3 separate regions of the Homo sapiens genome follow, and regions 1 and 3 are each reported to be linked to region 2. Evidence: microRNA targets listed by miRTarBase, many of them from high-throughput screens and not tested one by one. Region 2 holds a microRNA gene; each other region holds the end of a gene's coding sequence.

Region 1 (3,356 bases), not on the chromosome of region 2:
ACATTTCCTGACTTCTTGCTGAACCTCTTGCCTCTGGGAAATACTGCTGTTTGCTTACTTAAAAAGTGGTGAGAAATTAATATGATTCTCTCTTCCCTTTTAAAAAATTAAATTTGTATAAATATAAGGCGTACAAGTGCAGTTTTGTTACACGGATATATTGCGAAGTGGTGAAGTCCAGGCTTTTCCTGCAACCAACACCAGAAAAGTGTACACTGTACCCATCAGGTACTTTCTCATCCCTTACCCTCCTCCCACCCTTCTGAGTCTCCAATGTTTGTTCCACACTCTATGTTCATGGGTACACTTTATGTAGCTCCCATTTATGAGTGAGAACATGAAGTATTCGACTTTCTACTTCTAAGTTATTTCACTTAAGATAACAGCCTCCAGTTCCATCCAGGTTGCTGCAAAAGACATGGTTTCATTCTTTTTAGTGGCTGAATAGTATTCCATTATGTATACATACCACATGTTCTTTATCCAATCATCTGTTGATGTGATTCCCTTTTCTTTGCATATTCTTGGGGTACTTTTGAATCAGTTCTTTTAAGTTTTTGGGGAAGGAGATTTGGTTTCATTTTCATTACTTTCAATTATCTCCATTATCCTTCTGCAAACCCATGTGCCACAATTCAGAGCATTGTGCATACGTAAGAACAGAGTGAGAGCTCCTTTTCATTTCCCCCTGGAGGAACCCCCATCCTGGAATCGAAGCCCTCTGTTTATGATCCAAGTGTCACCACATCTCAAGTCTCAATGTGTGTGTGTGTGGTTTTTTTTTTTTTTTTTTGAGACAGAGTCTTGCTCTGTTGCCCAGGCTGGAGTGCAGTGGCATGATCTTGGCTCACTGCAACCTCTGCCTCCTGAGTTCCAGCGATCTCCTGCCTCAGCCTCCCGAGTAGCTGGGATTACAGGTGTGCACCAGCATGCCTGGCTAATTTTTGTATTTTTAGTAGAGATGGAGTTTCACCATGTTGGCCAGGCTGTTCTCAAACTCCTGATCTCAGGTGATCTGCCCGTCTCAGCCTCCCAAAGTGCTGGGATTACAGGCGTAAGCCACTGTGCCTGGCCCAATGTGTGGTTGTTATTAGCTATGCCCTTTACCGAACTCCTTTTCTTGACCTCCTATACCTACACCTGTTGTAAAGAAACAAATACAAAACAGGATTTCAGCAAAACACTAAAAGAAGAGCGTTCTAGTTTTTTAAAAAATTTAATTTTCTTGTGGCACATAACAATGAACTCTGGTGTCACCAGCCTATTGTATAATTAACTTCTCGTCTTTTGTTCCTTATGAATTTACATATTTAATTATCTTTCCATTTAATTTCCCATGGTTTTGCTACGTTGACTAAACTCTGTAATGAGAAAGTCTTTTAATTTAATAGACTTTGCAGGTCATGTGTAACCAGCTTTGGAAATCATTTTAGGATTACTGAGTGCTGTTTCATAATGCTGTATATTTTTCCTGCCAGGATTTGGAGTACCTAGGTTATTTGTCCACCAGAACAATGGCTGTAAAGGAGAAAATTGAGCAGTGGTCAGAAGCTGCTGAGAAGATGCGGTAAAACAGGTTACATAAAAAACAATGCTGGTTTGAAATAACCTATGCGCTTTTGTCAAGGGATTTTGCATTAGTGCATTTAGTCCAAGTCAGGGCCAATTCAGAGGATGTGGCTGAAGGCACCGTTTTGGCCTTTTTTGTTTCTTTTGAGAGCTCTGCATACATTCCCACTTTTCCTGTCAAAGTGGACAAAATGAAGAGTCTCATGAGTGGAGGGGCATTCTGATCCCAAGAGACCACCCATCTGTGGAGTGGCTACACAGCCAGAATGTGGATGTGAACCAACTCAACGTGCTCCCCAGAGACTGAAGAAGCGGCGTTTTAGAGCTTTGGTTTCAGTCTCTTGGAGGAGATTTTCAGAAATGGCCAATTTATGTGCAAAGGTGACTTTTCTAGGCACCCAGGAAGGCAAATTTAAGCTCCGAGCTGTATCAACTGCATTCTGTTCCTATCATCAGAAGTCTCAGAATTGAACAGTAAATGGTGCCTACTTGGCTCCTTGTCAAAATAAGTCTGCATGGCTCTCACAACAAGGGAGACAGCTGTTCGTTCCGCTGGAAAGGAAAGGAGATGAACTTTGTTTTGCCTAGCGTTTTGGGAATCGTGACCACAATTTAATACAATCAGGTGTAGTTTGTTTAAGGAATTATCAAAGATCATACTTGGCTGTCAGATTGGAATTGAGGTCGATAGGCAGACTTTGACCATATGCTAACCAGAATACAATCCAATTCAAAAGTGGAGTTGAGAAACACAGCATTAGGAGAATTTATTCAAACATCCATGCAGAGATAGTCTAATATTTTAAAAACTGATTTCCAGGATCATTCGCTCCATTTTAAAGGAAATGCAGTTCTATTTTGAATATAATTCAGGACAGGGCCCCAGCTCTCTGATTTATGCAAAAGGACATAAATTCACAAACCTGCCTGGGCTATTTTTATATTTCAGCAAGAGGTTGTGTGCAGCTGCTGTTTCTGGCAAAATAAAAAAATAGTGCAAGTGAAAAGTGAACGGGAACGGGAAGGAGCGTCATTTTTTCTTGATCAAATCCATGAGATCGTCTTCTATTCCTTTCTCACTCAGCTCATCTAGACTGTAGTATCGGTGAACAATTTTCTCGGCGGTGACCACCACGACTCGGAGCCCGTGGGGGTCTCTGCCCAGCTGGCATCCAATGGCAGATGACACCACCATGTCGAGGTTCTGGTAGGTACCCCCGGCATTCCTGTGGTAGTGGCCTGAGAACACGACTTTGACACCTGCAGAGAAGGGAAAAAGTCATTAGGGGGCCGAGGACTTCCATTAGGTAACCTAGGGTCTCCAGCATTTTATTCTGTGAACAGTAATATATTAAATATATTATTATACCATCATGTAGAATTATCATATTAAATGTATAATATTATTCTGTATATAATCAACAAATAGAAAGCGTATGTGATGTCCAGAATCTTTGAAAGGATACTTCATATATATAATATATTATTAACATGTTTGTCATAACTTGTACAAAGACGTACTAGGGAAGAAAATGAGAGAAGGAAGATGAAGTGAATGACTTTGAGAAAAGACAAAGGAGACTGAAGAAAACAGCCTGAGTCCTATAGAAATATCCAGATGACAAAAGTTATGTATTTTAAAAATAACATTTATGGCCAGGGATGGTGGCTCATGCCTGTAATCCCAGCACTTTGGGAGGCCAAGATGGGTGGATCACTTGAGGTCAGGAGTTCGAGACCAGCCTGGCCAACATGATGAAACTCTGTCTCTACCAAAAATATAAAAA
Region 2 (3,000 bases):
CTCGTGCGCGAGTGCGCGCGGCGCATGTTCGGCGTGTCGGTCTTCAGGCGCCTGATGAGTTCATAGTTGGGCGGTGGTGTCAGCGGTTTCGCTGGCGTTCGTGGGCCTCCCCCGGACCCACACACGGAAACACGCAACCATTCGGGGATCCAGACGCCCGTTTACACGCACCACCCCTGGGCGGGCTGTGCGGCTCAGGCCCTCCCCCGGGACCGGCCCGTGTCCCGCCCCGTGTCCCGCCCCGTATTTGTGCGGCGCCAGCTGGCCCCGCAGCCTGCGGCGCAGAGAGGCTGGGCTTGCAGGCGCAGTAGCTCCAGAGGTCGCGCTGGGCTGAGAGTGCGGGCCGGCAGAGGCTGGCGGGGAGCAGCCGGGGTTATGCTGGGCAAGGATTACATGCTGGCCATCATTCTGGTCAACTGCGATGGTGTGCACGGAGGGGCCCGGTGGGAAGACCAGGAGCTGAGGGAGGACGAGGGAATCCGAAAGGCTACTCTGGGGCTCAAAGACGGTGGGGGATACCTCTCTGTGTAGGGACCAGGGGGCGAATGAACCCGGTCTTTACATGTGATGTCTTCAAGATTGAGGAGCCTGGATCTTCAGCCTAAGAACTGACCCATTTTGGGGATGGAGAGGGGATTATGACAGCATGTTATTCTGAACTCACAAATCATATGCTCCCTCCTCTCTAATCCGGTGTTCCTGTAGATGACTTGTGGGGGGACCACAGTCTGGAGGTGGAGGCTGGCCTGCCTCCTGGCTGGAGGAAGATCCACGATGCTGCAGGTACTTACTACTGGCATGTACCCAGCGGTAGCACCCAGTGGCAGCGCCCAACCTGGGAACTAGGAGATGCAGAGGACCCAGGCACGGTAGGTAGAGTGTGAGGAGGAGGTCTGAGCCCATGTGTGGACCTAGGTCTGCTGTTAAACTGACTAACTCCCACTCTACAGGGAACGGAGGGGATCTGGGGACTGCGGCCCCCCAAAGGGAGATCCTTCTCCAGCCTGGAGAGTTCACTGGACCGGAGGTAACGGGTGGCCCAGGCAAAATGAAAGGCTTGGGGTTCCATGGTGTTCAAAAATGCAGCTGGACCCATGGTCTGCTTTCCAGCCCAGGTTCTGGATTCTGTCACATGTTTTGGGTTCTGTTACGTTCTTGGCTCTGTCCCAGGTTCTTAACTGTCAGTATTTTGAGTTTTATCCCTTGTTCTAAGCTCTTGTTTGTAGCTACATGTTTTTCATATTCTTGGTCCTAACCTATCATGTTCTAGACCTTGGCCATTAAGTCCTCTGTTCTAGGGTCTCTTGTCCCACTTTGGGGTTCTGGTCCACATATTGGACCCTGTTCTATTTTGTGACTTTTATTTTTTATTTTTTGAGATGGAGTCTCACTCTGTCATCCAGGCTGGAGTGCAGTGGCACGATCTTGGCTCACTGCAACCTCCGCCTCCCAGGTTCAAGTCATTCTCCTGCCTCAGCCTCCTGAGTAGCTGAAACTACAGGCACATGCCACCATGCCCAGCTAATGTTTGTATTTTTAGTAGATATGGGGTTTCACCATGTTGGCCAGGATGGTCTCGATATCCTGACCTCATGATCCACCCGTCTCAGCCTCCCAAAGTGTTGGGATTACAGGCGTGAGCCACCACTGCACCTAGCCTTGTGACTTTTATTCTATGTCCTGTGTCTGGGTCCTATGTCCTGAATTTTCCCTCAAATTCTGAGTCACACTTTATGTTACGTTAATATGTCCTGGGCTCTACCCTGCTCTGGTTTTATATTTCTGGTGCTATATTCTGGGTCTTGCCCCTCATCCTGTGCTTATCAAGTTGTCTAGGCCTCACCAGTGTCCCTACTGTAGGAAATGTGGTCCTCTTAACAGCTCTGCTCTGTTTCAGTAACTCTCTGTCCTGGTATGGTGGGGAATCCTACATCCAGAGCATGGAGCCAGGGGCTAAGGTAGTGACTTGGGCCTGAGGGCATTGGGAGGTCCCAAGGGAAAGACAAGGGTGGGATTGGACTGAACAGAGGTGATCAAGGGTGAAGACAGGGAGTATGTATTGTGGCACCTGCCACCCTACTCCATCCTTATTAATTCCTGTCCCTTCCCCCAACCTGTCAGTGCTTTGCAGTCCGCTCTCTGGGCTGGGTAGAGGTACCTGAAGAGGACCTGGCACCGGGGAAGAGCAGTATTGCAGTCAATAACTGTATCCAGCAGCTGGCCCAGACCCGCAGCCGGAGCCAGCCTCCAGATGGTGCCTGGGGTGAGGTGAGTTGGCTGGGCCCTTTAATGGTTTGGGCCCAGGGCCCAGCAGAGGTAGCTGTCCCTGAATTTCCTATTTCTCATGGCAATGACCTTTATCTGAGCTCTGGGCTGACCTCTGTCCTTGGCAGGGCCAGAACATGCTGATGATCCTGAAGAAGGATGCCATGAGCCTAGTGAATCCCCTGGACCACAGTCTGATCCACTGCCAGCCTCTGGTGCACATCCGTGTGTGGGGCGTGGGGAGCTCCAAGGGCCGGTGAGGATGCCTACATCCCCCAAGCAAGAGCTACTTCTCCCTCCCGGCTGCAGGCTGTGATCCCCACTGATGCTGATCCCCAGTACTTGAACCCCTGGACACAGATCCTCTGATGTGGACCCAGGACTGCTTCCCCTGCCTGGTCCAGCCCTGGTTGGGGAGGGTGGGCCCAGCTCAGCAGGGACAGTTTGGGGAGAGTCCGAGAGGCTGGGCTGATTCCCTTCTGTGCTCCCACATGCTTCCGGAACAGTGACAGGTGAGTGAAAACCAGGTATCCTGAGCCCCATCCCTGATGTCCCTACTCCATCCCTGCTATATCCCTAGCCTGACTTTCCAGCCTCCTGCAGGCTCCTGCCTCTAACCAGCTTCTACCCCAGCCCCATCTCTGCCCCTGCTAGGGACTTCGCTTTTGTGGCAAGTGACAAAGATAGCTGTATGCTCAAGTGCCATGTGTTTTGCTGTGATGTCCCTGCCAAGGC
Region 3 (3,356 bases), not on the chromosome of region 2:
CGGTGGCTCATGCCTGTATTCCCAACACTTTGGGAGGCCAAGGCAGGCTGGTCACCTGAGGTCGGGAGTTCAAGACCAGCCTGGCCAGCATGGAGAAACCCCGTCTCTACTAAAAATACAATATTAGCTGGGCGTGGTGGCGCATGCCTGTAATCCCAGCTACTCGGGAGGCTGAGGCAGGAGAATCCCCTGAACCCGGGAGGCAGACGTTGCAGTGAGCCCAGATAGCGCCATTGCACTCCAGCCTGGGCAACAAGAACGAGACTCCTTCTCCAAAAAAAAAAAAATTGAGTCTTTGTCCCTGTTTATGTCAGACTGTTTACTATGCCTGAACAGAACCTATTTTTACCTAAATGACCTCCTTTTCTTGGCAATGTTATAAACAATAGCCAATTCAGAAATAAGTACCTGCACCTCAAACTTCTGTTTACTATGATAAATTATTTAAATGAAAGCAGTTGGTGTACATGCTGCTTGCTCAGTTCTCTCCAAATGGGGATTTATGTCTGTTATGAAAAGAAAGTAGCTTGAGGTTAAATAATAATGCTAATATGCTAAGTAATTATGATTTCCATTTTTATAATCTTACCTGGATTCTTCATTCTGGGACACACACATAGAATTTGTCTTTTATGTAGAAGAGTACTTAGATTGAAGGTATATACTTTTCTTTTTTTTTTTTTTTGAGATCGGAGTTTCGCTCTTGTTGCCCAGGCTGGAATGCAATGGCACCGCCCTCGCTCACTGCAACCTCTGCCTCCCAGGTTCAAGCGATTCTCCTGCCTCAGCCTCCCAAGTAGCTGGGATCACAAGCATGCGACACCACACCTGACTAATTTTGTATTTTTAGTAGAGACAGGGTTTCTCCATGTTGGTCAGGCTGGACTTGAACTCCTGACCTCAGGTGATCCACCCGCCTTGGCCTCCCAAAGTGCTGGGATTACAGGCATGAGCCACTGTGCCCGGCCGAAGGTATATACTTTTCAAAATATTCAGGAATAAATCTAAATATTCCTGAGTACTTCCAGGAATTGCTAGAAAGATGACATATAAAACCAAACTTCTTGAATACTTTGTAGCTTCGAGTTCCATGAATAATCTGTAAAAGCCTTCTGACTGATCAGCATGAGTTCTAAATGATGTTATCAGACTATGTAACTTCAAGTAATCTTTTTTTTTTTTTTTTTTTTTTTTTGAGACGGGGTCTTGCTTTATTGCCCAGGCTGGAGTGTAGTGGCGCAATCTCAGCTCACTGCAACCTCCACCTCCCGGGTTCAGGCAATTCTCCTGCCTCAGCCTCCCAAGTAGCTGGGACTACAGGCACTCGCCACCATGCCCAGCTAGTTTTTGTATTTTTAGTAGAGACGGGGTTTCACCATATTGGCCAGGCTGGTCTTGAACTCCTGACCTTGTGATCCATCCGCCTCGGCCTCCCAAAGTGCTGGGATTACAGGCGTGAGCCATGGCGCCCCGCCCAACTTCAAGTAATCTTCTAATCATTATTTCTATTTTTGAGATACTGGTTCATAAAACATCAAATATGCATGAATCACAGTGCTATCCACTGGCAGCATGGCAGTGAACTACAATGAAAACCAGTTCTACAAAAGACACTTTGAATGCCATTGTTTCACACCTTTAATACTGTCTTAAAGGTTCTATTGCTCTTCAACGATCTTAGTGTACTTTGAAATATAAAAGTAATAATTATCATTGGAACAGTTATTCTAAATCTAAAAAGATAACTCCCATAGCAATATTTGTTTACTCAGAACATATTTTCACTTCCAATATATGTAAAATTTCTCACAAAGAACAGAACTCACAGTTTGAACAGAAACCTCAGTGTTTAAATCTCCACATTCAGTAAAATAAACGCTACATAGTAGGTTGTTCTGAATATAAATCACGCACTTAACTAAATGGGATATAATTTCTAACTTGTGTTAAAAGTGAAGAAATAATTTTTTATGTGAAGCCTTGTCCCAACTCAGTCAAGTGCAAGATTATCATATGATACAAATCAAACTCTACTAACACAGCACATTTGTCAGAGACTTGAAGGCAGATACATAACTACAGCTGGGGAACTGGATGTCCTTCAGCTAGGGTGTAATGAAAGAAAAAAGCGTATCATAGATCAGGTCCCAGTTTTAATTACTTCATTGATGACAATGCCTTACTTTATTTATTGAAAAATGTTTCTTCCACTGAAAATACACTTCTAATTTTATAATGCAAGACAGTAGGGGAAAAAATAGGAGCCCATGTAAAAAAAAAAAATCCACTCTTAGAATCTGAAGTTATTGATCAGATATGCAATGACTTTTTTCTGCTGTGATGATAATCAAATCTTTTTTCTTAAGTACTGACTTGCCAATTTATCTTTGATAACTGATTCAGAAAGATAAATGAACCTTGTGACTTTACATATGAGAATATGTACATATGTATATATATATTCTAAGAAGTTATGTCCCATGATCTGACCCATACTTCTGATTTAAAATATAACTAAATTCTCTCAATAAAACAGTACTAATTTTAAGTTTTAAACTGAAATCACCCTTTTACCACACTGTTCTCATTCTCTTTACTTTTTATTTTTACATTATTTCTATAAATACTAAAAAAAAACCCCAAAATCCCCAATCTTGAAACCAACTTACATTAGAGGTCTGAGGTTAGTTTATAACTTTTAAAATATTTTGTTAAAATGTAAAAAACCTGAAATTACAAACAAAAAAATTTATAATTTTACAGTATATATAGAATTTTTTTTAAAAAAATATTCTGAACTGTTTTTATATAAGTAATCAAATGTTATTTTTTTAAATGAAACTCCTTTACAGGCTAGAGGAGGATATGTGGTATTGCCCCATTAGAAATCAATACACATTTCATTTTTTTATGCTGGTACTTCAACTATTTCAAAGTAGTCATTTGGTAGAATCACATAACCTCTTTCTGATACGTCGTCTTTCTCTTTCTGGAAGTGAACAACCTCCTTTAATTTTTCAAGCTGCCGTTCTTGCCTTCTGCATCGCTGCTGTGCGGTCTTGAGCTTCTTTCTGAGTTTTTCAACTTGCTGTTCTAGCTGATGAATCCTTTTCCGCTGGTGCATTGTATCCTCCACAGTATAGTTGTGGTCACAGAAAACTGAGAGATTAACAGGGGTCTGAAGAGGCGGCATTAGTAATCCAATAGCAGCATCAACCTGGGAAACAGGAGGCGGTAAAGGAGGTGGGGGAAGCTGTTCCTGTGGCTCCAGAAGATCTTCTTTCTAAAACAAAAATACAAAGTATGTTTGAATTTAGTAACTAAAAACAGTTTAAAAGAATCTGTGGACTGACCAG

Evidence for each region. Region 2 holds the annotated microRNA hsa-miR-6831-3p (UGACUAACUCCCACUCUACAG, at 930-950, shown strand). A microRNA usually pairs through its seed, bases 2 to 8, with sites in the 3' UTR of a target mRNA and lowers its output. Matches are read on the target gene's strand: a 7mer-m8 pairs with bases 2 to 8, a 7mer-A1 pairs with bases 2 to 7 and ends in A, and an 8mer does both.
Region 1: miRTarBase lists CPPED1 as a target of hsa-miR-6831-3p. Seed matches in the 3' UTR shown: 7mer-A1 at 1,352-1,358.
Region 3: the mRNA of THAP1 is a reported target of hsa-miR-6831-3p. The part of its 3' UTR that is shown has no 7-base or 8-base seed match.

What each region holds. Positions count from the first base shown.
Region 1 is chr16:12,662,287-12,665,642 of GRCh38, forward strand. It overlaps CPPED1 (calcineurin like phosphoesterase domain containing 1), which reads right to left. Exons shown (of 4, transcript NM_018340.3): 4 at 1-2,829. The coding sequence ends at 2,600. Among named protein-coding and RNA genes, the nearest start is that of SNX29-AS3, 53 kb to the left of the region's middle.
Region 2 is chr5:140,561,621-140,564,620 of GRCh38, reverse strand. It overlaps MIR6831 (microRNA 6831), which reads left to right and starts at 870; the gene lies at 870-950. It overlaps APBB3 (amyloid beta precursor protein binding family B member 3), which reads left to right and starts at 23. Exons shown (of 13, transcript NM_133173.3): 1 at 23-424; 2 at 706-869; 3 at 951-1,027; 4 at 1,898-1,958; 5 at 2,122-2,268; 6 at 2,394-2,521; 7 at 2,772-2,777; 8 at 2,920-3,000. The coding sequence starts at 376. RefSeq lists enhancers at 1-197, 806-865 and a silencer at 156-335.
Region 3 is chr8:42,835,054-42,838,409 of GRCh38, forward strand. It overlaps THAP1 (THAP domain containing 1), which reads right to left. Exons shown (of 3, transcript NM_018105.3): 3 at 1,621-3,283. The coding sequence ends at 2,909. Among named protein-coding and RNA genes, the nearest start is that of THAP1, 6.6 kb to the right of the region's middle.